Linked DNA regions of Homo sapiens: regions 2, 3, 4, 5, 6 and 7 are each reported to be linked to region 1. Evidence: microRNA targets listed by miRTarBase, many of them from high-throughput screens and not tested one by one. Region 1 holds a microRNA gene; each other region holds the end of a gene's coding sequence. Distances are between the middles of the regions.
The links. Region 1 holds the annotated microRNA hsa-miR-4695-3p (UGAUCUCACCGCUGCCUCCUUC, at 1,520-1,541, opposite strand). A microRNA usually pairs through its seed, bases 2 to 8, with sites in the 3' UTR of a target mRNA and lowers its output. Matches are read on the target gene's strand: a 7mer-m8 pairs with bases 2 to 8, a 7mer-A1 pairs with bases 2 to 7 and ends in A, and an 8mer does both.

Region 2: miRTarBase lists RTTN as a target of hsa-miR-4695-3p. Seed matches in the 3' UTR shown: 8mer at 2,568-2,575.
Region 3: miRTarBase lists CDKL1 as a target of hsa-miR-4695-3p. Seed matches in the 3' UTR shown: 8mer at 1,029-1,036.
Region 4: miRTarBase lists MYO16 as a target of hsa-miR-4695-3p. Seed matches in the 3' UTR shown: 7mer-m8 at 545-551.
Region 5: the mRNA of MOGAT3 is a reported target of hsa-miR-4695-3p. Seed matches in the 3' UTR shown: 8mer at 3,119-3,126 and 7mer-A1 at 2,792-2,798.
Region 6: miRTarBase lists SCN7A as a target of hsa-miR-4695-3p. Seed matches in the 3' UTR shown: 7mer-A1 at 873-879 and 8mer at 1,073-1,080.
Region 7: miRTarBase lists GSTM3 as a target of hsa-miR-4695-3p. Seed matches in the 3' UTR shown: 7mer-A1 at 1,987-1,993.

The regions. Positions count from the first base shown.
Region 1 is chr1:18,881,685-18,885,751 of GRCh38, forward strand. MIR4695 (microRNA 4695) reads right to left here and starts at 1,591; the gene lies at 1,518-1,591. ALDH4A1 (aldehyde dehydrogenase 4 family member A1) reads right to left here. Exons shown (of 15, transcript NM_003748.4): 5 at 3,789-3,944; 6 at 1,595-1,744; 7 at 1,440-1,514; 8 at 16-203. RefSeq lists a silencer at 2,445-2,676.
Region 2 is chr18:70,000,532-70,004,598 of GRCh38, forward strand. It overlaps RTTN (rotatin), which reads right to left. Exons shown (of 49, transcript NM_173630.4): 49 at 2,500-3,705. The coding sequence ends at 3,620. Among named protein-coding and RNA genes, the nearest start is that of CD226, 55 kb to the left of the region's middle.
Region 3 is chr14:50,326,500-50,330,566 of GRCh38, forward strand. It overlaps CDKL1 (cyclin dependent kinase like 1), which reads right to left. Exons shown (of 10, transcript NM_004196.7): 10 at 1-3,682. The coding sequence ends at 3,575. DMAC2L (distal membrane arm assembly component 2 like) reads left to right here. Exons shown (of 6, transcript NM_001382507.1): 6 at 1-1,458. Among named protein-coding and RNA genes, the nearest start is that of DMAC2L, 16 kb to the left of the region's middle.
Region 4 is chr13:109,206,435-109,210,501 of GRCh38, forward strand. MYO16 (myosin XVI) reads left to right here. Exons shown (of 35, transcript NM_001198950.3): 35 at 175-1,571. The coding sequence ends at 402. LOC124903207 (a long non-coding RNA gene) reads right to left here and starts at 186. Exons shown (of 2, transcript XR_007063864.1): 1 at 1-186.
Region 5 is chr7:101,192,486-101,196,552 of GRCh38, forward strand. It overlaps MOGAT3 (monoacylglycerol O-acyltransferase 3), which reads right to left. Exons shown (of 7, transcript NM_178176.4): 6 at 3,702-3,904; 7 at 2,522-3,615. The coding sequence ends at 3,461. Among named protein-coding and RNA genes, the nearest start is that of MOGAT3, 6.5 kb to the right of the region's middle. RefSeq lists an enhancer at 3,186-3,686.
Region 6 is chr2:166,402,079-166,406,145 of GRCh38, reverse strand. It overlaps SCN7A (sodium voltage-gated channel alpha subunit 7), which reads left to right. Exons shown (of 26, transcript NM_002976.4): 26 at 1-2,573. The coding sequence ends at 566. Among named protein-coding and RNA genes, the nearest start is that of SCN9A, 28 kb to the right of the region's middle.
Region 7 is chr1:109,733,631-109,737,697 of GRCh38, reverse strand. It overlaps GSTM3 (glutathione S-transferase mu 3), which reads left to right. Exons shown (of 9, transcript NM_000849.5): 7 at 1-42; 8 at 131-241; 9 at 529-3,761. The coding sequence ends at 627. Among named protein-coding and RNA genes, the nearest start is that of GSTM3, 5.4 kb to the left of the region's middle.

The sequences.
Region 1 (4,067 bases):
TCCCCAGGGACTTACGGCACACTGCCTGTGAAGTTGATGCCACAGAGGTGCTCTGAGCTGGTGACAGTGTCCCCAAATAGGGGCCCATCAGCTGGCACAAACTGGATGATGTTGGGGGGCAGGCCAGCCTCCCGAAGGATGCGGTAGACAGCATAGCTGGCCAGCATGGCAGTGTCACTGGGCTTCCATAGGACCACGTTGCCCTGCCCGGGAGGTGTTTCAGTGATGCATGAGGATGGCGCCACCAGCCCCCAACCCCCACCCCACCCTACCCTACAGCATGGTTGTCCCTCACCTGGAACCACCAGACTCTGTGCCAACCAGGACATCCCCTACCCGACCCCACTCCTCCAAGGCGTCTGGCCCTATCTCCAAAAGTCCCTGCCAAGGAGGCCACGGCACAGCCCAATCTGCCCCACGCTCTGGCCAAGGCTCCCTTTCCCCAGAAGCCTGCACCAACCGGTCCTGCCATCACCTAGGCAGGTCTGTTCTTACTGCTAGAGTCACTGAGTGCTCACCGGGCGCGGCGGGGCAAGTACACACGGGCTCTCTCAGCACATGTCCTGGGTCAGGCATGTGCAGCAGCCAGGCACGTGGGCGCCTGGCCATGCACCGTGTTTGTCTGTGCACAGATGCATGAGGACGTCCCCATCCATGTCCCTAGTACACACTCCGGCATCAGCATCCAGTGCCCCTGTCTGGGGCTCGGGGTTCCCGACAACTATGTGGACCTCTCCCACCCAGGCTGTCTGGGAGCTGGGCTGCACCTCCCCCACAGGCCTGGGACTTCATCCAGTAATAGCCAACCTCACTCCGATAATGGCAGAGGAGTGACTTGAATACCATCAACCCCGAGAGAGACTACATCCAAATCTTTCTCTGCTCCATCATTTATTTACTAGTCACTCAGTCTTGCCAAGTAAGTCACGGCTGTGTGTCTCAGTTTTGTCATCTGGCAAAGAGGCAGAGTCACAACTCCCTCTCGAAGCTGCTGAGAGGATGAAATGAGATCATCTCCATGCCGTGCTTGACAGCAGCAGGCACGTGGTGAGCACTGAAGGTCAGCGGTAATGATCATCAACAGAGCCACCAACACTCAGCCAGCTCCGGGCCAGCCCTGCCTGCTGCTGGATGTGTCTCATTTGAGCCTCACAACCCAGTCATGGAGGCTTTCCTATTATTTCCACTTTGCAGATGAGGAAACTGTGCCTCAGAGAAGTTCAGGGATTGCCAGGGTCTCCCAGGCAGAGAGGCACGACGCTGGGATTCAAACTGGGTCTCTGGTCCCAAAGCCTACCCACAGCCCCAAGCTGCCTCCACCTTCTGTGCCTCTCCCCATGACTAGGCTGAGACCCAAGGGGCTCAGGGTGGCCTCTGTCTGTCTGTTGGGACCAGGAGGACAACCAGCTGCCGCTGTCCCACCTGTGCCCACATCTCACCATCAGGGCCGGTGCCCCCGCCAGGTTGCCGCCGATTGCAGTGAAGTTAAAGGGCGAGATGGCCGCCACGAAGCCCTGGGGAAGGAGGCAGCGGTGAGATCAGGCCCATGGCATTGGGCTGCCCCGCCTGCTCGCCCACTGCCTCCTGCAGGTACCTCCAGACCCCGGTACACCGTGCTGTTGGTGCTCGGGGGCACGCTGATGGGCTGCTGCCCCTCCAGCTCCACCGCATACTTGGCATTGAACCGGAAGAAGTCGATGAGTTCCGCTGCAGCGTCAATCTCCGCTTGGATCACGGTCTTACCCTGCAAGGCAGAGGGCCGGGGGTCAGGAGCAGCCAACAGCCTCCTGTCCATCCTCTTCTCACATCTGACGCTGTGCCCAAAGCGAGCACTGAGCCGGGCCCCAGGAGGGACCAGGAAACATTTGGAGGGCTCACCAGGTCCCATCCCAGGGGCTGAGGGGGAAAGGATTCTCAAGCCCCTGAGCTAGCACCTCCTGTAGCCGGCCCTCTGGGCTGGACGGGGATCAGAAGAATTTTAGTGATCCTCTGTAGCAGGCCAGGTACTTGCCATGCACTGTCTTCATTTCATAGCAACTCTGAATGGTGGTGCATGGCAAAGGATCTATGGTCAAGCCTCAGACTAAATTCAGGATCAGAGCCTTCCAGACAGAAGGGCAGATTAGCATGAGCTGGAGATTGGTCACTGGAAAACCAGGAGAGAGACTCGGTGTGTGGGAGGTGGATGGCTCCTTCCCCAGGAATGATGTTCGGCCTTGCTGGTTAGTTTGGGCCAAAAACCAAGAGGCGAGTGACTGTGATTCCCTTAAACCGTCAATTCTTAATAACAGCAAATGTGAGCTGCAGGGAAAAGAACTGTGGACAGCCAAGAACGGGGCTTTTCCAGATTGACGTGGCCTCCTCTTGGCACCCAAGGTCACTGGCAGGTGCACGACCTATTAGAGACACACAGCCCATGAAGCTGAGCTAAGATGTGTACCTTGCTTCCTAGAAGTTCCTGAGTCTTAGGCCAAATACAGAGAAAGCCTAAACTGATCCTAGACTGTCTTCCCAGCAACGTGCGGCTCACCAGGAACACGCAGAGCTGACGCCCACCCCAGAGGGCTGCTGAGCCAATCTAAGAAGGCATTTAGCAGGCTGAGGGGCTGTCATACCAGCTCTGTGCAGCAGAGGGGGCGCTCACCATGGGGACCGAGGAGCAGGCAGTGGCAAATGCCTGATCCAGAAAGCAGCCTGGGTTCTGGCTCCTGCAATTTACCCTTCAGGAACCCAGGTTAGTTGGCAGCGTAGGGCTCAGGTCCTGGAGGTGGTGAAATAACCCTTTCTCCCTCGACTCCTGTCCCCCGCACACTCTGCCTGCTAGAGCCACTCCTCACTCAACTTGCATTTAGCAGGGTGAGGAGCTGTCATGCCAGCTCTGTGCAGAGAAAACCATTGATCAGGGGCTTGCTATGCCTCCTGAAAGGTATCATGCAAAGCCCAGAAAAAGACCGAGAATGTCAAGACATGTTTACTATGTCCAAAAAGCTTGTAAAGGGGCAGTACCTAGGAACTCAATACACTCCAGTGCAATCTGAGCTGTAACTGATGCAGGAACAACATGCTCTGGGGAAACAGAGGCAGGAATAGTCCTTTCGGCTGGAGAAGGCTCAGGAAGTCTCACGGAGGGGGTGACATCTGGGCTGGACCAGGAGGTAAGAGTTCACTGAGCACGGAAGAGACAGCAGGCATTCCAGGCAGGAGGACACGTGGGCAGAGGCAGAGAGGATGCCTGCCATGGCCGGGGAGTCCTGCTAAGTGCCAAATGGCTACACTATGGGCAGGACAGCTTGGCAGGGAAATGCAGAGCAGTGGGCGAGCTGGACAGAGGTGGGCAGAAGGGCCCTGGGTATGGGGCTCAGGTCTTGGGACTTGCCTCTCAGTGGTGGAGAGGTCTGGGTGGGTCATAAGCCAGGAGTAACATCCTGGAGGTGTTGGAAAGACCACTCTGAGGGCGGCGAGGGGCTGACCAAGCTAGGAGGCAGGGAGACAGTGCAGGCCACCACCAGTCCAGGCAAAGCATGACAAAGGCCTAGGAGCGAGGACAGAGGGATGGAGGAGAGGGGACATTTCCGAGGCAGGACACATGGGCTCTGCACAATCTGTCTCGCCTAATAATCTGTGATCATCCATCCCAGCTCCTAGGCCTTGTCCCTTGAGGACATCTCTGGGTCCCCAAAAGGGCTTAGGACCCAGAAGCGCTTCAGCTGATGTCTGCTGCCATGGGTAGGGCACACCTGACTCCCACCCCACCCCGCCCCACCCACCCGGGCCCACCAGCACCTCACCTGTCCCACCATGGTCTTGGCGAGGATCTCAGCCCTGCGCGGCCCACTCAGCATGTCTGCCGCCTTCAGGAAGATCTGGGCCCGGTCTGCAATAGGCTTCAGGTCCCACTCTTTCCGGGCAGCCAGGGCAGCCTCAATGGCTTTGTTGAGCAGGCTCTAAAGGGAGAGGGAGAGGTTGGGGACTGCCACCTGCAGCGGGAAAGGCCCTGGGGAGTGAGCGAGGGAGGAGAGACCTGGGAGGCCACTCTCTTCCATCCGGGGACAATGCCTGTCTCCCTG
Region 2 (4,067 bases), not on the chromosome of region 1:
AGATGTTTTTGAGAATTTTGTAAGAATAAAAAATCACTGATAACATCTAAGGGATAACTATGTACCAGGCTAAGCACTCAGTCCTCTCACCAACTGCACAAGGTAGGTGTCCTCAACCCCAGTTAGCTTGAGCCTGTCCCAGGTTTCCAACAATTGCAGTGGTGAGGCCAGGGTTAATTCCTGGTCCACAGGACTCAAGAGCCCTCTACTCTTAACCGCTCTATTATGCTCTCTCATTCACTGAGATAACTGCAAGCAGATCTTAATGCAGAAGCGGGGATGCCAGTCATTACTCTTACCCATCACTCTGGCAAATCCGAGGAACATCACGGGTCAAGAAGCAGACCTGGGGCTCTGGCAACCTCAAGAAATGGGGAATACACAAGGTGCAGCCCCAAAGACTGATGATGCAAAATGACACGGATGAAGAGTCCATTTAACACTACAAAGGAAAATTGGTGATCTGGAGTTAAATAGGCAAAATTCTGTTTTGTTTTTTTTTTTTTTTTGCTCCATTATTTATAGAACACCAAAAAAAGAGGTACATTCAGCTATTCATTTCTGTAAGTGTTTTTAGGAAGAGTGGCAAAAGGGTCTAGCCAGGTCTGCTAACACCACTTTCCTACTAGCTTCCTGTTTTCAAAACTAATGGCTGCCTCCTCCCTCAAACTGCTCAAGTCTTAAGCCCAGAAGCCTCAGTATCAATGTCTGCACTTCATGTGTGACGTGGCACTACCTTTTTGTGCTTCCATAGCGCACATACACTAACTCAGCCCACCAAAAATGCTAGGATATGGAGAAATTGGACACCATGAAGTATGAACTAGTCCCCTGCACCTATTTCCTGGATCCTTGCTTAAACTTGGGCAGGTGTGAAAGAAAAAATACTTGGTTCACATTCAAGAGACCCAGATTCAAGTCCTGATTTCATCAGGCAGCAGTTAAGTGATATGAAATAATTTTCGTGTTCTAGGCAGTTTTCTGTAATCATGGGGATTAATCAGTGGTTCTCAAACTGTGGTGAGCAGAACCTGGAGAGCTTGCTAAAAATTCTCCTAGACACAAGTCTGCCTCATTGAGCCCAGGAATCTGCATTTCAGTGCACACACCTGAGGATTCTGATGCTGGTCCGCAAGGGAGAGGCAGGGCAGCTGCTACAGCAGTGGGCCAGTCACCTCAAGGCTCCTGCTGAGACGTCTTCCCCACTGGCTGACGGTGCATAATCCCAGGAGACCCAGTTGCAAGGACTGTCCCCCAGGATCTGGACCACAGCGTGCACCCGAGCTTCACATTCCTGGACACCAAGAGAGGCAAACGCAAGTTCCCCTAAAGCCATGGCCCCTCTCCTTTCTCCAAGGTCTGCAGTCCTCCTGGGCTTTGGCAGGTAACATTTCTGGGTGGTTCTGACTACTAGGCTACAAATCTCCCTCTGGTACTACTGTGAACTGCTAGGGAAAATGATCAGTTACAACAATTCTTCCTGGTTCCAAGAAGATGAGGTAGTGCCTACTCTGATATGTGAATCAGTCAATCAATGAACCATAATATAATTTCCCTGAAGAGAACAAATTTTTGTTGAAAAATGGTGTTTATCTATAAGATTCAAACACAAAAAGAGATATTTCAGTGGGGGTGGTAGAGGGGCAGAATAAATGGTTTATAAAGAAAAGTGGTTTATAAAGAAAAGCAAACTTCTTCGCAGTTATCCTGGGTTCCAACCTCCACTTCACTGATAACCAGCCACAGTCAATGAGCACATTACTTAACCGCTCTGCGCCTCCGCTTATTCACCTGGAACACAAAGACATTAGTAGTATTTTAGAAAAAGATAGATTAAATGATAAAAGTTCCGAGAATAATAGCTGGGACATAGAAGGAGGAGTTATAAAGGAGTTATGAAGGGAGTTAGAAATTCATTTCATTTATTTATCAGTGAGGGCTGATTAGAGAATTCCAGAAAAATGGCAAAAAATATAAGATATCGGGAGAAAAGGGAAAAATAATTCCCAAGATTCCTGCTCTCAGAATTGACGAGTTTTCCGCTACACATTAACTTGGGCAGCTCAGAAACTTCTGAGCTTCCTAGATTTATTTTTCAGATCTCGAATCAATTAATTCTCAGACATTACAAACTTAACTGTTACTATTTCTGTATTTAACATAAATTTTGTCATACTTCCAGCTTAAATAACATCATTGCTTATTTTATTGCTGTTAGCAATTTAACAGCACTTAAAATGATATTTTTCTTTCAGTTTTTCTGAAAACATTATCCTAAATGAATATATATGTATACATGTATATGACATATATGTATATACAAACATATATATATTAATACTTCACCTTTTATTTCTCTTACACACAATTTTCTCACTTTCAAAAGTGTTGGGAAAGTTGCTGAAAGTGATTAGTACTTGATTTTGGTTTAAGTGCGGAATTCAAAACTACAGGTTAAGTAAGATTATGTAATAGAGTATAGAGCTTGTTCCTCCTGCATTTTTTTTTTTTTTTTTTTTTTTTGAGACAGAGTCTTGCTTTGTCACCCACGCTGGAATGCAGTGGCATGATCTCAGCTCACTGCAACCTCCCTGCCTCCCAGGTTGAAGAGATTCTCGTGCCTCAGCCACTGGAGTAGCTGAGATTATAGACGCTCAAGACCAGGAATGGCTAATTTTTGTATTTTTAGGAGAGATGGGATTTCACCAAGTTGCCCAAGCTGGTCTCAAACTCCTGGCCTCAAGTGATCCACCTACCTCGGTCTCCCAAAGAGCTGAAAGTATAAGCATGAGCCACCAAGCCCGGCCATCTTCTGCATTTTTCAGTCTTACTCTATTCTTCATGATGTTTTGGGCTGAGCTAAATTTGAACCCAGGCTTATACAGCCCCAACTCTATTTCTTTCTTCTTTATTACACAGCCTTGCAGAAGACAACGGTGAAGATTATACATGTAATGATTTAAGAGTCATCTAGGAAGAAGATAACATCACTAAAACTTGCCTAAGAAAGCTACTTACAAATCATGTACATTTACTTCCACACAGCCCTTTACAAATAATGCACACTTACTTCTACATAGCCCTTTTCCAGTGTGGATGCTCTGGATAACAGAAAGTTTTGAAAATAAGGATTTGCACTGACAGAGCCAAATTTTACATCAGTTAAAATTTAAAAAAAGAGAGAAACAACCAGGACACAGTGTCTTATTTCAACTCCTAAAATTAATATTCATGAGACTGATAAAAGTCTGTAAGCAGCAATTATTAGTCAATTTTTAGTTTCTAAAAATATTGTTTTATTAAATAACTGTTAAATAGGATTTTTACAAAATAAATGGCATAGAAAAGGGTAAAAATGTTTATGTTCCCAGAACTTTCTATGCCTTTTCAACAGAAAGGAAAAGGCACAGAAAGTTGTCAGCTGCTATTACTTCTGGAGAGCTGCCACAACTGGACGGTGTTGGAGTATCACCAGTTCTCTCTCTCATGGGAAAGAAGGGGATCAACACTTTGTAGAGAGGTAGCACGTCTTCAGGTAACAGCTGCTACACACAGCTGGCTTCAACTTTAGCTCCCCTGTTGATGACTGTCAGCTTCAAGGTGTAGCATCCCATGGCACTCAGGAAGAATTAAGGAGCTGCACGAGGTTTTCAAGACATTTCAAATAATAGGCATTTAGAGGGTTTGCTTCTGAGTTTGGGAAAGCTGAGATAGAAAAATAAGAGTACAGAAATACTAGTTTATGAAACTTGGTACTATACTTAGGAGGCACACACATAAACAAATACATATGAACAGGATTTATATATAATTTAAAGCTCTAAGTTCTTGATGTAATAGCATTCCAGAATATTTTGCATTTTTTAAAAAATAAACAAGTTACAAAATCAATATTTTTTTAAATTAACAGCTTACCCAGAGTATTTTTTAAAAAGTACCCCCCATAATGGATACCATTAACTATAATTCCAAATGAATGCCATTAATCTTTTTTTATGTACCATCCTTCCTAAAGCATAATCTTTAACTTCACTAGCTCCAGAAATTCATGGTCGCAGCTAAAACAA
Region 3 (4,067 bases), not on the chromosome of region 1:
GCATGCATTGCTTCAACAGGATTTGCGTGCATTTCCCATGATCCTGCATTCTTGTGTTCTTGATAGCATACAGACTTACTCAGAATCAACAGTTGCTGCTTAATTTGTCTATTTTGTAAGCTTAGGCTACTATTTTATTAAAACTGGACATAGATACTTGGCTGAATACAAATAGTTTTGCAGATTGCAATATAATAAAGGAAACAGTAAAAACTAGTGGGCTATGCTTAGGTTTTTCTTGAAACCTAACATTGCTTTAGGCTGGGTGCCGTGGCTCGTGCCTGTAATCCCAGTGCTTTGGGAGGCTGAGGTGGGAGGATCACTTGAGACCAGGAGTTTGAGACCAATTTGGGCAACACAGTGAGACCCCATCTCTAAAAAAATTTTAAAAATTAGGCAGGCATGGTGGTGCATACCTGTAATCTCAGATACTTGGGAGGTTGAGGTGGTAGGATTGCTTGAGCTCAGGAGTTTGAGGCTGCAGTAAGCTATGATCACGGCCACTGCACACCAGCCTGGTAGCCTGGGTGAAAGGGGGAGACCCTGTCTCTTAAAAAAAAGGGCTGGCCTGTAATCCCAGCACTTTTGAAGGCCAAGGCAGGCAGATCATTTGAGCCCAGGAGTTCAGGACGAGCCTGGGCAACATGGCAAAACCCTGTCTCTACCAAAAAATTAAAAAATAAAAAATAGCTGGGTGTAGTGGCACATGCCTGTAGTCCCAACTACTCAGGAGTCTGAGGTAGGAGGATCAGTTGAGCCCGGGAAGTCGAGGCTGCAGTGAGCCATGTTGGCACCACTGCACTCCAGCCTGGGCAACAGATTAAGACCCTGTCTCAAAAAAAAAAAAAAAAGTGAAAAATAGATAAAACAGGTCTTCATTGTTACCTGTGAGAAATGGCCCTGATTCTATTACTCTTATATGCCAGTTTGTTTATAGATTTCTGTGTGTTTGATTTGAACTTTTTTTTTTTTTTTTTTTTTTTTGAGACAGACTCTCACTCTGTTGCCCAGGTTGGAGTGCAGTGGTGTGATCTCAGTTCACTGCAACCTCTGCCTCCCGGGTTCAAGCAGTTCTCTGTCGCAGCGTCCCAGGTAGCTGGGATTACAGGCGCCCACCACCACGCCCAGCTAATTTTTGTACTTTTAGTAGAGACAGGGTTTCACCATCTTGGCCAGACTGGTCTTGAACTCCTAACCTCAGGATCCACCCGCCTCGGCCTCCCAAAGTGCTGGGAGCCACCGCGCCCAGCCTGGTTTGAACATTATTAAGCTGTTGAATATAAACTTGAAAATAATTTTCTATGATACAGCTTTCAGGTAGAAAAATGAATTTTCGTTGTGTTTAACAATGTTGTGTTTAACAGCTTATACAAATAACACAGTATAAATGGTAATTGCCACTGTCATTTTAAAAATCAGAAAATAGTAAATAAAAGGATGTGGAAGAGTCTCATGTGATACAGTGGAGATTTCATACCGAATAAAAGCATTATAAATATGGTTAAATTGAACATAAGCATAAATTTAACGGAACTCATTAGAAAAAAATAAGCCTTTTTTCTCAGGTTTGTTTCATTACTGTATGGTGAGACAACTGATTCACCACGATTTAGTCTAGAGCTACTTTTCTATTCTGAATAGTTTTTGGTAAAACTATTGGCTGAATTATTAGGCTGTTATAGTAATCTGCCTCCGTCAAGTGTATTTTCTTGGGTTAAGGAAAAAAAAATTTTTTTTTAACTATTCACGGAAGCTGGATGTTCTTCCTTGTCATTTGAATCAAGGCCGTCTAACAGGAATTGAATAATTCAGGGACTAGCATTTAACCCATATCAGGTCTAGGCAAGAAAAGACATACATTAGGAAGCCTTAGGATATCATTAAACTGCCTAGGGTAGTCAAAATTATTGAGTAGACACCAGACCTCAGTGGATTACTTAAGTAAATGGGGTCAGATGTCATCATGAAGAAAATTAACAGGAAGAAAATGAGAGTACAGAAGAAATGTTTTGAAAATAGAGTGAAATACAACTTTGAAGACCATGGCTGAGAAGTGCTAGGAATAGTGGCAGCACATCAACCAGAAATGGTGTTGAGCTGTAAGAAACAGACGTCAGGCTTCATATTGCCCTTGTGTCCAGGGGACAAGGATGAAAAAGCTTTTTGATTAAGAGCAGTAGACCAAATCAAAGCTAATTATGTCATTTTGGCCAGGCGCAGTGGCTCATGCCTGTAATGCCAGCACTTTGGAAGGCCAAGGCGCTCAGATCACGTGAGCCCAGGAGTTCAAGACCAGCCTGGGGAACATGGCAAAACCCTGCCTCTACCAAAAAATACAAAAAAATTAGCCAGTATAGTGGCACATGCCTGCAGTCCCAGCTACTTGGGAGGCTGAGGTGGCAGGTTTTATATATATATATAAAAAACACATATATATATATGTGTGTGTGTGTCATCATTTTAAGTCTCACTGTGCAAAGCTATGAGTCCTCAATACTTTGGACTACTTAGTGTAATATATTAGTTGTTAGAATAGCATATATATATATATATATATATATATACATACACATACATACACATACAAACATAGTGCAAAAAGATGTTTCAGGGAAAACATCAGTTTACAACATAATGTCTTTCATGACTCAAGTAAAAGCTCACAAGTAATTTCTTCTGAAACCCAGATCACTGAATTACAGGTTTGCCTATAGATGTACCAGGTCAAAGGCTGTGCCAGAGAGAATGAAATACTAATTATTTTCAGGCTGATAGGTTCAGTTCCTGCAAAGCCTGTAGGTCTTGCTCTACCCTTTGACTGCCTTAATCAGCTGCCGAGCTTCATGCCATTGTTTACAAGGGGAATTGGGTGAATAAATGTAGACAGATTACAGTAAATCCACGTTGCCTGCAAAAGTGACTAAGGTGTATCCTTTACTGATAAAGTAAGGATGAAATGTGGAAACATATAATTAAATTATAAATTACCAAGCTTTTGTGATAATTCATATGCTTTTAAATATTTTGAACCTAAGTGTTACCCTCAAAATGTTTTAAAATATAAAAATCAAGAAATAGAGCAAGCAGGAAATGGGATTTTAAACATTTTGATTTCAAGAAATAGAACTATCTTAAATATGATGCTGAAACAATCTGAGAGGCAGGAGATAGGACTCAGGCAACAGAGATCCGAGGAAATATATATGGGCATTTTGTGGTTCATTTTTCTTGTGTGGCATGTGGTACAACTGAAGCATAAATCTTTTTGATATCATCTAGTTTTGCCAGAGGTATGGGACAGTTCATATTCTGTCCATAAGTTCGGCTACTTACATAAACTGAAATACAAGTGCAACTCCAAACAGGTTTTTTCTTTTCTGGACACCATCATCAAGCATGGAAGACTGGATCTGGAATTTCCCTTCATATCTTGCCAGTTGGCCTCCCAGTTTCTTGCTTATGTTTTCTCCTGGTGTGTTTTCAACATTGTAATTGTTTTCAATCAACTGTATAAGTTTTATTTTCTTCAAAGCATCTATTGATTCCTTTTTTAAAATCATGTCTCCTAGCTCCTTTAAATGTTTGGAAAACGGTAGTTAAGTTTCTTGGTATCACAGTAGTACTTCTTATTATCCAAAGCTGGAAGGATGCTGCTGCCAGTTAGCTGGGGTAGGTACTGCAACTAAAAATGCAAAACACAGAATTAGGTTCAAAACTGTGCCATGCATTTTTTTCATTATTTAGAATATATCACAAAAGAGGTAATTAAGCTTTTTAGTATAGAAGTACTTTTTTTGCACACAATCCAGGACTTGAGAGAGGATTAAATGTTTCAATTTCGTCTTGGCTTTTCCTTTTAAATGTTTATATTAAAAAGGAAAAACATTCACATTAAAGAAGATTTAGAGAATATGAAAAGGGGAAAATCTACATGTTAACATTATTGGGAAGAAAACATAGATTTACAGGAGTTGAGAGCTTGCTGAGATCTTAGGGATCATTTAAGCCAATGCCTTGTCTTATAGCGGAGAAAACTGATAAACAGAGCACCTAGGCAATTTGCCTAC
Region 4 (4,067 bases), not on the chromosome of region 1:
AGCCTCTCTAGCCCAGTGCTGTTTCCAGAGGCAGCAGTGCATGGAGATTGAGGAAAGAGGCTGCCTCTTTCAGCACCAGTCCTGCCCCTTTGTATCCAGGTGTTGCTATCACACTTCATACTCATTCACAATATTTGGTGCTACCTGTTTTTTCTGCCCCTCTTCCTCCCACAGGTAATCCATCAGCTGAGGCTCTCAGAGAATGAAAGTGTGGCCCTGCAGGAACTCTTGGACTGGAGGAGAAAGCTCTGTGAGGAAGGACAAGACTGGCAGCAGATCCTGCACCACGCTGAGCCCAGGGTGCCTCCCCCACCACCTTGCAAGAAGCCCAGCCTTCTGAAGAAGCCGGAAGGGGCCTCCTGCAACAGGCTGCCGTCTGAGCTCTGGGACACCACCATTTGATGTGGCCTGAACTGCAGACTTACAAAATAGAACTGCCTACTGATTCCGGGCTGCAACAACAGAAGGCTGCCTTCTGACATGCGCTGGGGCTTCTCTCCACGCATTTAGACAAAAAAAGCACAGGACACAGACACTAAATATATGAGATCCCGTGTGTGTGTGTGTGTGTTTGTGTGTGTGTGTGTGGGTTCTTTCTTATCCATCTCGTGGTGATACACTCTGATTTTCAAGCTCCTCATTTACGGCTCTGTGCTACCCCTAGGTAGCAAGAGAGAGGCTGGGAAAAGTGTGGACGTGGCCAGAGCGAGAGAGTAGCGGAGGAAAGGAGCAATCCATGCACACTCTGTACAGTTGTTTTTCTACGGTTCAACAGTCTGTTTATTGTACTTCCAATGGTTTTATTATAATACAGTATACGGGACATATATTTTATTTCTTTGTAGCTACTTGTGTTTTATTGGTATTATAAACCTGATAATTATTTACATGTTTATTACTGTAATTTTATAAATTTATGCAATTGGTGGTGCTTCCTTTCTTCAAAATACAGATTTTAAAAAATCATTTCTAGATTATTTTTTTCCTCCACAGTCCTTTTTTTTCACCTAACGCACCTAAATCTTGAAACTACATTGTTGTTTTAGCTTCGCCAGTGTCACCCCTTGCAAAACTATGAATTGAGCCCCATGTTTTAGGTGTTACTCATGGATGAGGAGGCTGTTCTTTCCTATGCCCTGTATTTCTGGATAAGTGGATTGTGTACCCTTTAGTTAAATTTCACCTCCCGACTTCAGCATAGATCACAGGAAATCACATGGCACACGGTTAAACACGTATGGCTTCAAATCCATAGCCGGTGGTGTAAAATGATCATATTCATTCAAAGGCCTACACAGTACAAATGAGCACGCTGCCATGTACTGGTTTGAGCAGTAGGGGCTGCATCGCACAGCGCTCGTCCCCCGGGACTTACACTGCATGATTCCCTCACTGTATATCCTCAACCCTCCCATAATGCAAGGCCTTGTTCATTGATGTGCTTTCGTCGGCTGTCGGAAAGTTCTGAGCAGTGGCTCCAGACCACCTTGTCTTGCTACTTGGAACTTTTTATTCATACCAGCCTTTGAAAAGTTACTGTGCCAATAAAGAGGTACAACTGTGTTCTTCTATTGTTTTTGTTGTTGTTATTATTGTCTCCCATGAACTCTTGTGTTTTCTGGTCAGAGAAGTAGGGACAATGAAGTGATCTCACCCAGACTCCCTTAATGTGGGGGCCATAGCATTGTGCAAACTTTAGACACCAATGATGTTTTACAATACAGGCTTTATGATGATTCCAGTATGGTGAGACCAACAGGTCTGGAAGGGAGTCCCATTGAAAAGACGGCTTGTCATCCTCAGAAAGCTCAGAGAAGAGGACACATAGTGCCATCAGAGGGCCACACCAAGGTCAGCCAGGAAGCAGAGGGCATAGGGGGAGCCTTTTATTTTAGTTTGCACAACACTAGGAAAGGACAAGGCAGGATCAGCAGGCATAGAACTGACTGCTTTGAGAAATATCGGTGGGTTCTGGGTTAGCGGAGCCATCCCTACCTGTCTGGGACCTAGCCTTGAGGTGATTAGGGTGGGTGGAGAGTGGCCTGGAATGACAGCCCTATGAGAGCCCACAGGGGAGACTTACTAGGGATGTGGGCTCTAGATTGGTTGACTTGTCTTTGAAAATCATGTTCTGGGGTGAGTCATCATTATCTTTTGGACGTGGCTAACCCTGGAAATGGCAATTCCTCCAAGGTCAGCAGGGCCCCAGATGCCAAAGCATCAGAACACAGCAAATAAAAGCACATGGTCAATATGTAGTTACTGCAATGTTACTGCAGCCACCCAGCAACCACAAGGAAGTGTTCTGCCTGACCTCCAGCCTGACGACAGCCGAGTCCCATTCCCTGCCTATTTCTCTCATGTTTTTCCCTTCTGACTTCCACCCCCGCGAAGAAGCAATGGAAGAAGCCAACTTTCCCTTGATACATGGCTTCTTGGGCCATGCTATGGACATAATAGGCACTTAATGATCTTAGTTGAATTAAAACTTTGAATTGCATTCTCCTCCCCACAATATATTTAGGCCAGGGTGAAAAATAAACTGTTTAAGCATTGCACATTGCAAGAACTTGCTTCAAATGTTCACTGAGCATTGTGCTGACTGTGCGAGGTGCTCAGCCCATGTGATTCCTAAACTGGCTATTTTGGTTAGGGCTGCTGTAACAAATGGCCATCAGCAGGGTGGCTTCAACAACAAGCATGTATTCCCACAGTTCTGAAGCCTAGGAAGTCCAAGATGAAAATTTCCACAGATCCCGTGTCTGGTGAGGGCCTGCTTCCTGGATTGCAGATGGCCATCTTCTCATCGTACCCTCGCATGTTCAGAGAAGAAGGGGAGGAAGCACCCTCTCCGGTGTCTCTTCTTATAAGGGCATGAATTCCATCACGAGGCCTCTGCCCTCATGACCTAATCATATCCCAAAGACCCTGCCTCCAAATTTCATCATACTGGGGATCAGCGTTTCAGCATAGGAATTCTGGGAGGACATAGTTCAGTCCACAGCACTGACATATGCCTACAAGGTAATTTTTATCATTTTTGTATTGATACTGAAATTGAAGCTTATAGCTTTAAGCAGCCCATCAGATATAAACTCTCATCTTTATGATTCCAATGTCCATGCCATTTTAATTTGATATACAGAAATTGCCAACTTACTTTATGAAAAGACACCTGAAATGATGATGCATGACCATTGTAGGGAGACCTTACGTGAAGTAAGGAAGTCACAAGCCACATGTGTGTCCAAACCACACAACTCCCTATTAACCCAAGTTGAAGCACTGGGGCCTGTGTCATCACTAGGTAAACATTACAGTCACCTATTAGGGTACTATGAGCATCATGAACATGAAATATTTAACCTCTCAGTAGTCCCTCTGCCTCATTTAAGGTTTGTTGACCTTCAGACACTAGAAGCCAACCCGCTTGTAGATAGATTGTTTAAACACAATCTTCTAAATCAATGTGGACAGACCCTTTAAACACAATCTCCTTAATCAGTAAGTAAGCCCTTTTGTGTTTAGTTGTTTGGATTCTCCGCTGTGGAAAGAGATTGCAGGTGTGTGTTAATCACTACATTAGGACCATCTGATTGTGCCTGTTCTAATTACATGATATGAAAATCAGCAGAGGCTCAAAAGCATCAATAGCCATGACAGTAGTAACAGTATTAACAGTCACAATAATACGAAGTCCAAGCCTTCGTGTGGATTAAAGTTACTCTCAGAATGGCTCTCTAATGATTATACTTTGTCAAGAAAATAAAGAGGTAATATTCTGGGTAATAAAGTACTGAATATTATTCTACATAAGCAAGATTTCAGCTTTTATGTGTGTTTGCAAAATATTTAATGGTGGTATTTTAATTGCCATCAGACCATAAGGTATGAATTAGGATGTATTATTGAGGCTTCAAACTTATGTTCAGCAATATAATTGGTATGAATTATTACCCTATGTTCAAACACTGCCCACTTCTATTGCTTTTTTAAAAAAATTATTTATGAGAGCTCTCTAAAAACCACTATCCAAATGTTTACAATGAGTTAAAATGATTTAAAAT
Region 5 (4,067 bases), not on the chromosome of region 1:
AGGTGGGAAGGGACAGCCTGAGTAAAGCCCAGGGCTGAAACACAGCCTGGTTTGCAAGAACAAGCAGTTCTGGGTCGTCTGCCCTGGGTGGGGCTGCACCTTGGACCCAGCCTGTAGGCAGAGGCTGGCTAGCCCCCGAGGACTTCAAGCAAGAGAGGGACAGATTTGCCTTCTGTGTAGAGACCGCCCTCTGGTGGCCACATGGAGGATGGCAGGAGAGAATGGCGCCGAAAGAAAAGCGGCAGGCTGAGCTCATAAAGCTGCGAATGCTGTTCCTTCTTCCTCTTTTTCAAAAGACGGATTTTGGGCCGGGCTTGGTGGCTCACGCCTGTAACCCCAGCACTTTGGGAGGCCGAGGCGAGCGGATCACGAGGTCAGGAGATCGAGACCATCCTGGCAAACACGGTGAAACCCCATCTCTACTAAAAAAAAAATACAAAAAATTAGCCAGGAGTGGTGGCAGACGCCTGTAGTCCCAGCTACTCGGGAGGCTGAGCCAGGAGAATGGCGTGAACCCGGGAGGCGGAGCTTGCAGTCAGCGGAGATCGCGCCACTGCACTCCAGCCTGGGCGACAGAGCGAGACTCCATCTCAAAAAACATAAATAAATAAATAAAATAAAATAAAATAAAAGACGGGTTTTGCTCTGTTGCCCAGGCTGGTGCTGTGGTGCAATCTTGGCTCAGCCTGTAACTCCTGGCCTCAAGCGATCCTCCCACCTTGGCTTCTCAAACTCTGGGATGACAGATGCATACTACCATACCCCGCCCATCCCCAGTGTCTGGAAAATGTGCCCACTGGAGAAATCTATTGGCCGGATTGTGACTGGTTGGATGCTCCCACGGCAGGAAAGGGGGAAGGACAAGTGGCCACGTCGAGGCCTGCCTGAACTCCAAGGGTATCCAGGCCGAGGTTGCTCAAACCCAGAGCTGATTTATTTTTATTTTTATTTGTTTTTATTTTTTGACACAGTCTTACTCTGTCGCCCAGGCTGGAGTGCAGCGGTGCAATCTCGGCTCACTGCAACCTCCGCCTCCGGGTTCAAGCGATTCTCCTGCCTCAATCTCTGGAGTAGTTGGGATTACAGACACCTGCCACTACGCCCAGCTAATTTTTGTATTTTTGGTAGAGACGGGGTTCACTATGTTGGCCAGGCTGGTCTTGAACTCCTGGTCTTAGGTGATCCTCCTGCCTCGGCCTCCTAAAGTGCTGGGCTTACAGGCATGAGCCACCATGCCTGGCCTGAACGAAACATTTCTATGCTCCAACTTAAAATGAATGTAGAACTTATTATCTGAGAATGACCCAGGGAAGTCATGGGACTGCCCATATTTTCATGCAATAAAGGGAAAATTCTTCCCACAAATAAATTTTATAGGACGGTAGAAGCAAATATAGGGCATTCCAATTACATTTCAATGAGTTATTCTTGATGAAGTCCTGGATACACAAAGCCAGCCAGCAAATAGGATTGACCAAAGTCAGAGGATGCTGTGACCACCCCAGGGCTCTTTTTGTTTGTCTGTTTGAGACGGGTCTCGCTTCGTTACCCAGGCTGGAGTGCCGTGGCACGATCTCGGCTCACTGCACCCTTGACCTCCTAGGCTTAAGAGAGTCTCCCACCTCTACCTCCCAAGTAGCTGGGATGACAATCATAAGCCACCACACCTGGCTAATTTCTAGAATTTTTTTTTTCATTTTTTTCATTTTTTTTTCTTTTTAGCCGGAGTTTCACTCTTGTTGCCCAGGCTGGAGTGCAATGGTGCGATCTTGGCTCAACACAACCTCCGCCTCCCGTGTTCAAGCAATTCTCCTGCCTCAGCCTCCTGAGTAGCTGGGTCTACAGGAGAGCACCACCACGCCCAGCTAATTTTTGTATTTTTAGTAGAGACGGGGTTTCACCATGTTGGCCATGATGGTCTTGATCTCTTGACCTCGTGATCCACCTGCCTCAGCCTCCCAAAGTGCTGGGATTATAGGTGTGAGCCACAGCAGCCGGCCATAGGACATAAGCTTTTTTTTTTTTTTTTTTTTTTGAGACGGAGTCTGGCTCTGTCTCCCATGTTGGAGTGCAGTGGCACAATCTCGGTTCACTGCAAGCTCCGCCTCACGGGTTCACGCCATTCTCCTGCCTCAACCTCTCAGTAGCTGGGACTACAGGCGCCCGCCACCATGCCTGGTTAAGTTTTTGTATTTTTAGTAGAGACGGGGTTTCACCTTGTTAGCCAGGATGGTCTCGATCTCCTGACCTCGTGATCCGCCCGCCTCAGCCTCCCAAAGTGCTGGGATTACAGGCGTGAGCCACCGCGCCCAGCCTCAGCTGTGTTCTTAACTCTATTTTTCCTTCACTGGGGATGGTACCATTTCCCCGTCCTGTTAAGTGCCCTTGACTGCTCTTACCTTTAGCTCTTGGAATTCCGCCATCTACCCTAACTTCACCTCCATCTAAATCCTGCTCACTCTTCAAAGCCTGCCTCTCCACGCATCCTCCCTCCTAACTCCATCCCAATGCCCAACAGCTCTTTGCTAAGCAGATGCCTTTATTTACAGACAAAGAAGTAAACAGGCAAAAGGAAGAGGCTTGTCCAAGGTCATGCCACAGACTGAACTCTCACTGGGAGGACAGTTCAGGGTCCTGATACCCAATCTAAGGCAGCAGCTTTGTAGCACATCAGGATGGGGGCAGGTCATGCCTGGCCATGTTCACTTCCAGAACGATTATAGCTTTAACAACATTTTTTTTTTTTTGAGATGGAATCTCGCTCTGTTGCCCAGACTGGAGTGCAGTGGTGTGATCTCGGCTCACTGCAACCTCTGCCTCCTGGGTTCAAGCGATTCTCCTGCCTCAGCCTCCGGAGTAGCTGGGATTATAGGCATGAGCCACCATGCCCGGCTAATTTTTGTAGTTTTAGTAGAGAGGGGGTTTTGCCATTTTGGCCAGGCTGGTCTTGAACTCCTGACCTCAGTTGATCCACCTGCCTCGGCTTCCCAAAGTGTTGGGATTATGGGCATGAGCCACCACGCCCAGCCTACTACAGCTTTAACAGTCTTTTTTTTTTTTTTTTTTTTTTTTTTGAGATTGAGTCTCGCTGTGTTGCCCAGGCTGGAGTACTGTGGTGTGATCTCAGCTCACTGCAACCTCCGCCTCCTGGGTTTAAGCAAGTCTCCTGCCTCAGCCTCCCAAATAGCTGGGATTACAGGCACATGCCACCATGCCCGGCTAATTAACAACATTATTTTTTAATTTTTGTAGAAATGAAGTCTCACTGTGTTGCCCAGGCTGGTCTTCAACTCCTGGGCTCAAACGATCCTCCCACCTTGGCCTCCCAAAGTGCTGGGATTACAGGCATGAGGCACTGCGCTGGGCCCAGAACTACCTTTTATTGGAGGCATGGAGTCCACAGTGGGTGGAGGTCTCAGTGCCTTGGGCTCAGGGGCTCAGCGAAAGGCCGCGGCCAGGCCTAGATGAAGGTGAGGCAGGTGGAAGCGGGGACCCCACAGCTTTCCTTGTGCTCCTCGAAGAGCTGCTCCAGGGCCGTCATGTAGAGGGCGTGATAGTGATTGACTTCCTCCTCGGTGGGGTGGAGGCGCTGGGGGACGGGGATGGGGCGGCCCACTGCAGGGAGAGGGAGACAGGTGGGCGAGGGATCCCTGATGCCCACGCAGCTGCTGGTGGCCGTCCCCCCGGAGGTGGGCACTCACCCACAGTGGTGATGGGCACAGCAAAGGGCAGCAGGCCCCAGGAGGTGGCTGAGAAGAGACCGCGACCCCAGAAGATGCAAGGAGAGAAGCCCATGAGCTTCTTGAAGGTGAGCTGGCACCAATGCTGCCAGGAGCCTGTGGCAAAAGCCTTAAGTCTAAAGATGTCATTCTCCCCAAAGGAGTACACGGGCACCAGGGACGCCCTGGGAAGGAGCAAGAGAGAAGAGGGGGCTCAGGCTGCTGGACTGCTCCGAGATGGGCACCCCCAGGGGCTACAAGTCCTTCCCACTACGTCCAGATGCTACCTCCCAGGGTCATTCAAAGCACATGACTATGGCTACAAAGAAAGATCTAGAAGACAGGACT
Region 6 (4,067 bases), not on the chromosome of region 1:
TCATGGAGTTTTTAAATATTGCTTCTAAGAAGAAAAACAAGACCTTGAGTGAAGATGATTTTAGGAAATTCTTTCAGGTATGGAAAAGGTTTGATCCTGATAGGACCCAGTACATAGACTCTAGCAAGCTTTCAGATTTTGCAGCTGCTCTTGATCCTCCTCTTTTCATGGCAAAACCAAACAAGGGCCAGCTCATTGCTTTGGACCTCCCCATGGCTGTTGGGGACAGAATTCATTGCCTCGATATCTTACTTGCTTTTACAAAGAGAGTTATGGGTCAAGATGTGAGGATGGAGAAAGTTGTTTCAGAAATAGAATCAGGGTTTTTGTTAGCCAACCCTTTTAAGATCACATGTGAGCCAATTACGACTACTTTGAAACGAAAACAAGAGGCAGTTTCAGCAACCATCATTCAACGTGCTTATAAAAATTACCGCTTGAGGCGAAATGACAAAAATACATCAGATATTCATATGATAGATGGTGACAGAGATGTTCATGCTACTAAAGAAGGTGCCTATTTTGACAAAGCTAAGGAAAAGTCACCTATTCAAAGCCAGATCTAATACCACTTACCACCTCTTTTCATATTTCTTCACATATCTGAAAAATGTTGAAAGCCTAAGCCAGGAATAAAAGAAAAGTAGAGATAATAATCAGTTCTTTACAACCGATGGTAATTAAGCTTGTATTCACAAGACTTCATGCCAAATTCACTTTTTAGCATTATATCTAACAAATCAAGAGAATCCTTAATATTGCTGCAGTGAGTTTAAAGTGGGTTAAAGTGGCCATTTGACAATCTCATATTTGTTTTCTCTACATGGCTTATATGATGTGTGCCTTCTAGGGAATGAAGGGAAGTGGTGATAGAGATCAGCAGCAGCAGGGGCTTTCTTTTATATTTTATGTATAATTTAATGGGCTTTAAGTCACCACTATTAAGACTTACAAATAAGCAAATACTTTCCTGATGTGGGATGGTGAAATGCTAATGGCCATTAAATCATAAACTTGCCTAGACAAAAGCCAATTGGAAGAAGGGAGAGAGCAGTTCTTTAGAAAGTGCCTTTGAGATCAACCTCAGAGATTCTTGGGCTGATTAAAACTGCATTTGAAAAAGATTGGTTGAAGCTCTGTGTTTATTTTTGTATGTTCTTGTTTTCATTTGGAACTGGGAATGAATAGGATTTCATTGTGCTCAAGCTCCTGGTTTCTCATCTCTGGATAGTTTCACCTAAGCTCTGGCTCTTAAGCAGGACAGATTCGTAAAACAAGAAGCATAAAGGAGAGGTATAGCCTTTTTTTTTTTTTTTTTTTTCATTTTCTTCTCATTTACACCTATTTTTTTAAAAAGTATACATTTACTAAAATGATGTAATAAATAACATGTTAATAGACTCAAGCTTTACCTTATGAAATTGATGTATTTTTACCAGTTATTTCTAATGTAACATTGAATATATAAGATCTGACAAATGTATGTTTAAACATGAATTAGAAGAGTTGAGAACTACCATTATGTATAGGGATTCTCATAGTGTCTTGGCCCTTAATTGGAAAGTTGTGGCAACTTTAAAGTACTTTTTACTGTATGTTATAATTCTTTATAACTTAGAGAGAGACAATGGTCACTCAAACTATGAGAACTATGAATTAGGAGATAAAAGTTTAAATTTGTTGTTGTTTTATAACAGTATGTACAAGTTAGTTTTCCCTTATATATTTACGTTTTCAAGTTTTTTAATCTCATCATATACATCCATACTCTATAAAATGTTTTATATTCAAAGAACTGTAAAATCCTAAACATTAGTTTTCACTATTGAAATTGTTTTTTAAAGATAGGCATAAATAGTTGTCCTTAGACTTATTCATACAAATATAGTCATTTACTTCTATGTAGTTTGAGATTCTGAGAGTTATTCCAACTTTATGAAGATTGATTTCAATGTGCCTGCTAAGTCCTAAAAGATTCAGAAAGAAAATTTATATATTATTGATTTAAATATCATCCTTTAAATATGTTGTATAACATTCAATATAGTTTATGTATCAGTGATTGTATTTTATTCTGAATGCATGATCTCAAGCCTTAACTACTATAATCTTTTTCTGCCCCTCAGAAATTGAATAACCTAACCAAGATGCCTTTAGGGGATGCCCTAAGTAAATGTAATTTCAGATTTCAGGGTTTTTTTTTTTTCCTCTCTAAGTGTTCCTTCCCTTTCTTCTCCTGCTCTCCATCATGTTATGGAGACCAGTGAGGAACCAGTGTTAACTTGGTGACAATGTGACAGCTGGTGCTTTATCTAAGCTCCGTTTTCTATTTCTTGGGAATGCTTTATTGTGGAAACTGCTTCAGATACTTAAATTGAATCATAACTTGCTTCTGTAAATTGCGTAAAGACAACAAACTGATTTTAGTTTGAAAAGTTTATCTTTTACTTGTAAACCTTGTTTGCCAGTTACCTTCCGAAAGCTGTGTAAAGAGTTATTTTTAACAAAGTCTTAACAATATATGTTACTTTTTAGATACTATAGAAAATAATAAATATAACCTGTAAACCACATTAAGCTATGTTTGTTTTTAATTTGATAAATCACATTGGCAACTTTGTGTAGTATACTTTTTAAAAATAAGCTTTACATTAAAGTTTGTTAATTCAGGCTTAAAACTGGAAACAGTTGTGCTTTCTTTAGATCACATAATTTTGTAAAATACATTTTAGTAAGCTTACCAGTGGCCCCTACACATTAACAAGATGTAAAATGATCACTCTTCTTATCAAAATTATAATGATAATTTTACTAGATATATTTTCGTATTATTAGAATTTGCTTTCTGGAAGATAATACTGAAATTAAATTTATTGGTACACTACTATTTATCAATTTCTGCATCTTCAAAAATTTTATTGTGCTTCATTAGTAAATATAATACACTTGAAATTGTTTTAAAGATAATGGTAACAGCTACCATTTATTGAGCACACTTCTATGCCCAGCCTTATCGTATGTATTTATCGTGCATGAAGAAGTGATCACTCTCAGTTCATGAGTGAAAAAAGTTAGGTTTAGAAAGGTTATGAAGTTTTTATATGGCAGAGACCCTATAAGTAAAAAGGCCAGGACTCTAAACCAGGTCCAGTTACAGAGCCTTAATGTGTTTTCTCTCACACTCGCTCTCTCGCTCGCTCGCTCTCCATCTCCCGCTGTCCCACTTTCCCCATTTGGTGCAGTAAATTTTAAAAGTAGAGACATTCCCTGGAAAAAGGGAAGTCATAAGGGATAAAATTATAGAAGTTGAAAAATTCAACGTTTTGTGAATGCTGAATACTAAAGGTAAACTCAGATCCTATTCAGATAAAGATATATCTGAGACTGAAGGGCTTACTGACTACTGGGGGGAAACGTAATATGCAGCTGGTTATAATATGTGATAATTTTTATACTGTGAGTGTACATTGTAATACACATATAGGCAGGAATGATGGGTTCTGTGTTGGATATCAGAGGTGAAGTGAGTAAAGTGGGCTCCTGCAGAGAAAGGAGGACTTTGTCAATTAAAGAAGGCAATTTTATTAAACACAGAGGCACTTTTAAGGAGAAGAGTCCACCACAGATATGAGACCTAGGCATCCAGCTTATAGTTCTTCAGCCTGGAGGATAAAGAGATATGAACCAAGGAGACGATGCAATCCCTATTGCAGAGATTAGCTAGAAAATCTGAGCAGAATTACTCTGGACACCTCAAATCCCTTCTCAGACATGTTTTATTTTTCCCTTTGGTTTTTGAACTTTCTCTTCTGTTGTCTGTTCCTTTCCATAAATTCTGGGTCTGCATTCTTAGCTATGATGGTTAATAAAGAACTCCAATGAATGATTTGAGTCTTCACAAGTGGAAATTTTCATCTTTATGTTCGGTAAACTAAAACTTTCAGGCTTAGACACTTAATCATCTCCTCATCTGTATGGAAACCTCTGTCTTCAACTACTTATAATCACACACTGACTCAAATAATTCTATCTCAACTCCAGCCCTAGGTTCTACTCTCTATCCAGGT
Region 7 (4,067 bases), 91 Mb from region 1:
TCCATGTTTCTGGGGAAATTCTCATGGTTTGCCGGGGAAAAGGTAGGAAGAAGGGAAAAGAAGAGGATACTTCTCTATCTCTGCAGGCTACTACTCCTCAGACCTAAGCATCTTATTGCTTTTCTTCTAGCTCACCTTTGTGGATTTTCTCACCTATGATATCTTGGATCAGAACCGTATATTTGACCCCAAGTGCCTGGATGAGTTCCCAAACCTGAAGGCTTTCATGTGCCGTTTTGAGGTGACGTTTCCTGCACCTTTCTCTTATAAAAACACTCACAGGCTCCCCTGGGACCTGCAGGATCCCATAGTGGAGGATTCTTCCCCGGCTTTTGCCTAATGGGATCAATGGTTGGACACCTCTAGACCTTTAAGTCTTGGGAAGAGCCTAACTTCTATACCTTGGAGGCACTGTCTACAAAAAAATGGAGGAGGTAGACGCAGGCAACACGTGAATGTTGCTGTTCTGGTATGCATCTGTTGGACTGGGTTGGGGTCGTTATAAGATTTGGTGTATTTTCCTTTCAGGCTTTGGAGAAAATCGCTGCCTACTTACAGTCTGATCAGTTCTGCAAGATGCCCATCAACAACAAGATGGCCCAGTGGGGCAACAAGCCTGTATGCTGAGCAGGAGGCAGACTTGCAGAGCTTGTTTTGTTTCATCCTGTCCGTAAGGGGTCAGCGCTCTTGCTTTGCTCTTTTCAATGAATAGCACTTATGTTACTGGTGTCCAGCTGAGTTTCTCTTGGGTATAAAGGCTAAAAGGGAAAAAGGATATGTGGAGAATCATCAAGATATGAATTGAATCGCTGCGATACTGGCATTTCCCTACTCCCCAACTGAGTTCAAGGGCTGTAGGTTCATGCCCAAGCCCTGAGAGTGGGTACTAGAAAAAACGAGATTGCACAGTTGGAGAGAGCAGGTGTGTTAAATGGGACTGGAGTCCCTGTGAAGACTGGGTGAGGATAACACAAGTAAAACTGTGGTACTGATGGACTTAACCGGAGTTCGGAAACCGTCCTGTGTACACATGGGAGTTTAGTGTGATAAAGGCAGTATTTCAGACTGGTGGGCTAGCCAATAGAGTTGGGACAATTGCTTACTCATTAAAAATAATAGAGCCCCACTTGACACTATTCACTAAAATTAATCTGGAATTTAAGGCCCAACATTAAACACAAAGCTGTTGAAATATTGATGAAAATGTAAGAATTTTTGTGACCACGGGGTAGGAGAAGTTTCTTTAAAGACGTAAAAAGAAAAAAACCATAGGCTGCTCTGCCTGTGGAGTAGCCATTCTTTATTCTTTTACTTTTTAAAATAATAACAATCACAAAGGAAAGATTTGCCAATTGAATAGGATCAAATTCTACAACTTTTCCTAAGGCACCCACAAATAAATGACAAGTGAGACAAAAAGCACTAGTATAAAGATTATATAAAGACCTATAAATCATTAAGACAACTGAGTTTTTAAAAATGGACAAAATCCATGAACAATTTATAAAATAGAAATATAGCCAAAAATGTCTAAAAGATGTTTATGATGTAAGGAATTATCAATTACAACAGTGAGAAACCATATTTCCTTCTATCCGATGAGTAAAAAGTTTCTAAAGTGTTGGCAAGGCTTAGGAAAGTGATATGCATTTCCTGCTGGTCAAGTTGTAAATTAGTATAGCTACTTTGGAGGACAATTGTAAAATTTAAATCATATCCTATGACCCAGCAATTCCATGCTATAAAAACTCATCCATGGCCGGGCTTGGTGGCTCACGCCTGTAATCCCAGCACTTTGGGAGGCTGAGGTGGGCAGATCACGAGGTCAAGAGATCGAGACCATCCTGGCCAACATGATGAAACCCCGTTTCTACTAAAAATACAAAAATTAGCTGGGCATGGTGGCATGTGCCTATAGTCCCAGCTACTCAGGAGGCTGAGGCAGGAGAATTGCTTGAACCTGGGAGGCAGAGGTTGCAGTGAGCCGAGATCACGCCACTGCACTCCAGCCTGGCTACAGGGCGAGACTCTGTCTCAAAAAAAAAAAAAAAAAAAAAAAAAAAACATTCAAAGAGACATATACTAAGATGTTCACTGTGGCATTGTCTGTAATGACAAATAAGTGGAAACCGTGTAAATACCTGTCAATACTATGGAGTACCATGTGGCAACGGAAGAATGAGACTGAACTGTGTGAACTAACATGCAAAGATCCCCAAAACAGGCCAGGTGTGGTTGCTCACAGCTGTAATAACAACACCTTCAGAGGCTGAGGTGAGAGGATCAGTTGAGGCCAGGAGTTTAAGACCAGCCTGGGCAACATAGTGAGACCCCTGTCTCCCAAAAATTTTTTTTAATTAGCTGTGCGCAATTGCTCATGCATAGTCCCAGCTACCCAGGAGGCTGAGGTGGGAGGATCACTTGAGCCCAGGAATTTGAAGCTGCAGTGAGCTGTGTTCTTGCCACTGCACTCCAATCTGGGTGACTGAGCAAGACCCTGTCTCTTAAAAAAATAAAAAAGATCTCCAAGCATAGAGAAGAGTCTGGAGGGAAACACCAAACTCATAACAGTCTTACTGCAGGCAAGTGGGATAAAGGCCCAGACTCCATGGTGGAAGTTAAAGGGCATTTCCAAGTTAAGGCTAAGACTTGCTTTTCTAACTAAGAGAATGTGCTCATGCATTGCTTGTGTAGTAGAAACTAGTTTTTAGAAAAGAAAGCAAACTTAAGAAACACTGACTCCTGTGGAGATGACTTGGCACCACTCTCCTTTCACAGAGCAGAGTCTGAATAGTCTTCAGAGATAGGCCTGTGGGCCAGATTGCCATCCCCTATGGACCAGAAGCCAAGGATCTCTCTAGTGATGGTCAGAGGGCCCAAATGGCAGGGATACCCAGTGATGTCAGGAGGAATAGTACAGACAGAAGGTGCTAAGCAGACAATTCAACTGCCATGTTTTGCCACCCCCTGTGAGCAGGGATTAGGTGTTCAGGCCAGTATCTTGGGCATGGGGGAGCCTTTGGCCAGAAGAGGTATAAAGCTCAGAAGTTTTTCAGTCTGATAACTATTGATATAATTTCCATAGTGTGAGGGAGCGGTATGCTCTACCCTTGTGTATTTAAGGCAGGACAGAGAAATTGAGGATGCCCCTGGGGCTAGATCGATGATATGACCAGAAATCAAAAAGGGAATGCATTATTTATTGCTGTGTAACACTGTTAAGAGAGGAGGTAGTTAAGGGATGGATAGGCACATAGAGAGGGAAGGTCTCAGGAGAAGGGATAGAAAGGAACTATGTTCACAAGAACAACGGCAAGACAGTGCCTATACTGCCTCTACAGTTAATAGGAAAAACGGAAGAAGTTACCCTTAAGCTAGGATGTTGCTCAGAAGTGACCATCCCAACTTTGGTGCGGGCACAATAAATCAGCCTAAATGTCCCTAATTTAACCCAGCTCATTATAATGTCATTAAACATGACATTAGCATTGTGGTTTTAGCACCCCCATGGGTTTTGCTTAGGCACTCATGGGTAATAACCAAGATGGAGTCCCTTTGGCAAAACTTAGGCATGCACAGCTGTAGTACCCCAAGAAGAAAATGTTACTTCTCTCATCTGGGCAAAACCCACAGAAGACTTCCCAGCTTCTGCCACATAAAAGACACAGAACACAGACGCCTTACTGGCAACCTGCTTTCAAGACCCCTGTCTTTGCTGAGAGCTTTCCTTTTTCCCAATAAATTCTACTCTGCCCTACTCACTCTCCATGTCCATGTGCCTAATTTTTCGTGGTCATGGGACAATAGCCTGAACCTTGCCATACTCCAGGGGCAAAAGAAGACTTCTACACTATTCCCACAAATTTAGCAGCTAAAACAATACATGTTTATGGTCTCAAAGTTTTGTGGATTAGGAGTCTGGGCACAGCTGAACTGGGTCCTCTGCTCAGGGTTTCATCTGAAAACTGCCATCAGTGTGTCATCCAGAGCTCTGATCTCATCCCCAGGCTCAGTGGGAGAAGGATCTGCCTCCAAGTCTGTGTAATTGTTGATAGCGTCAGTTCTTT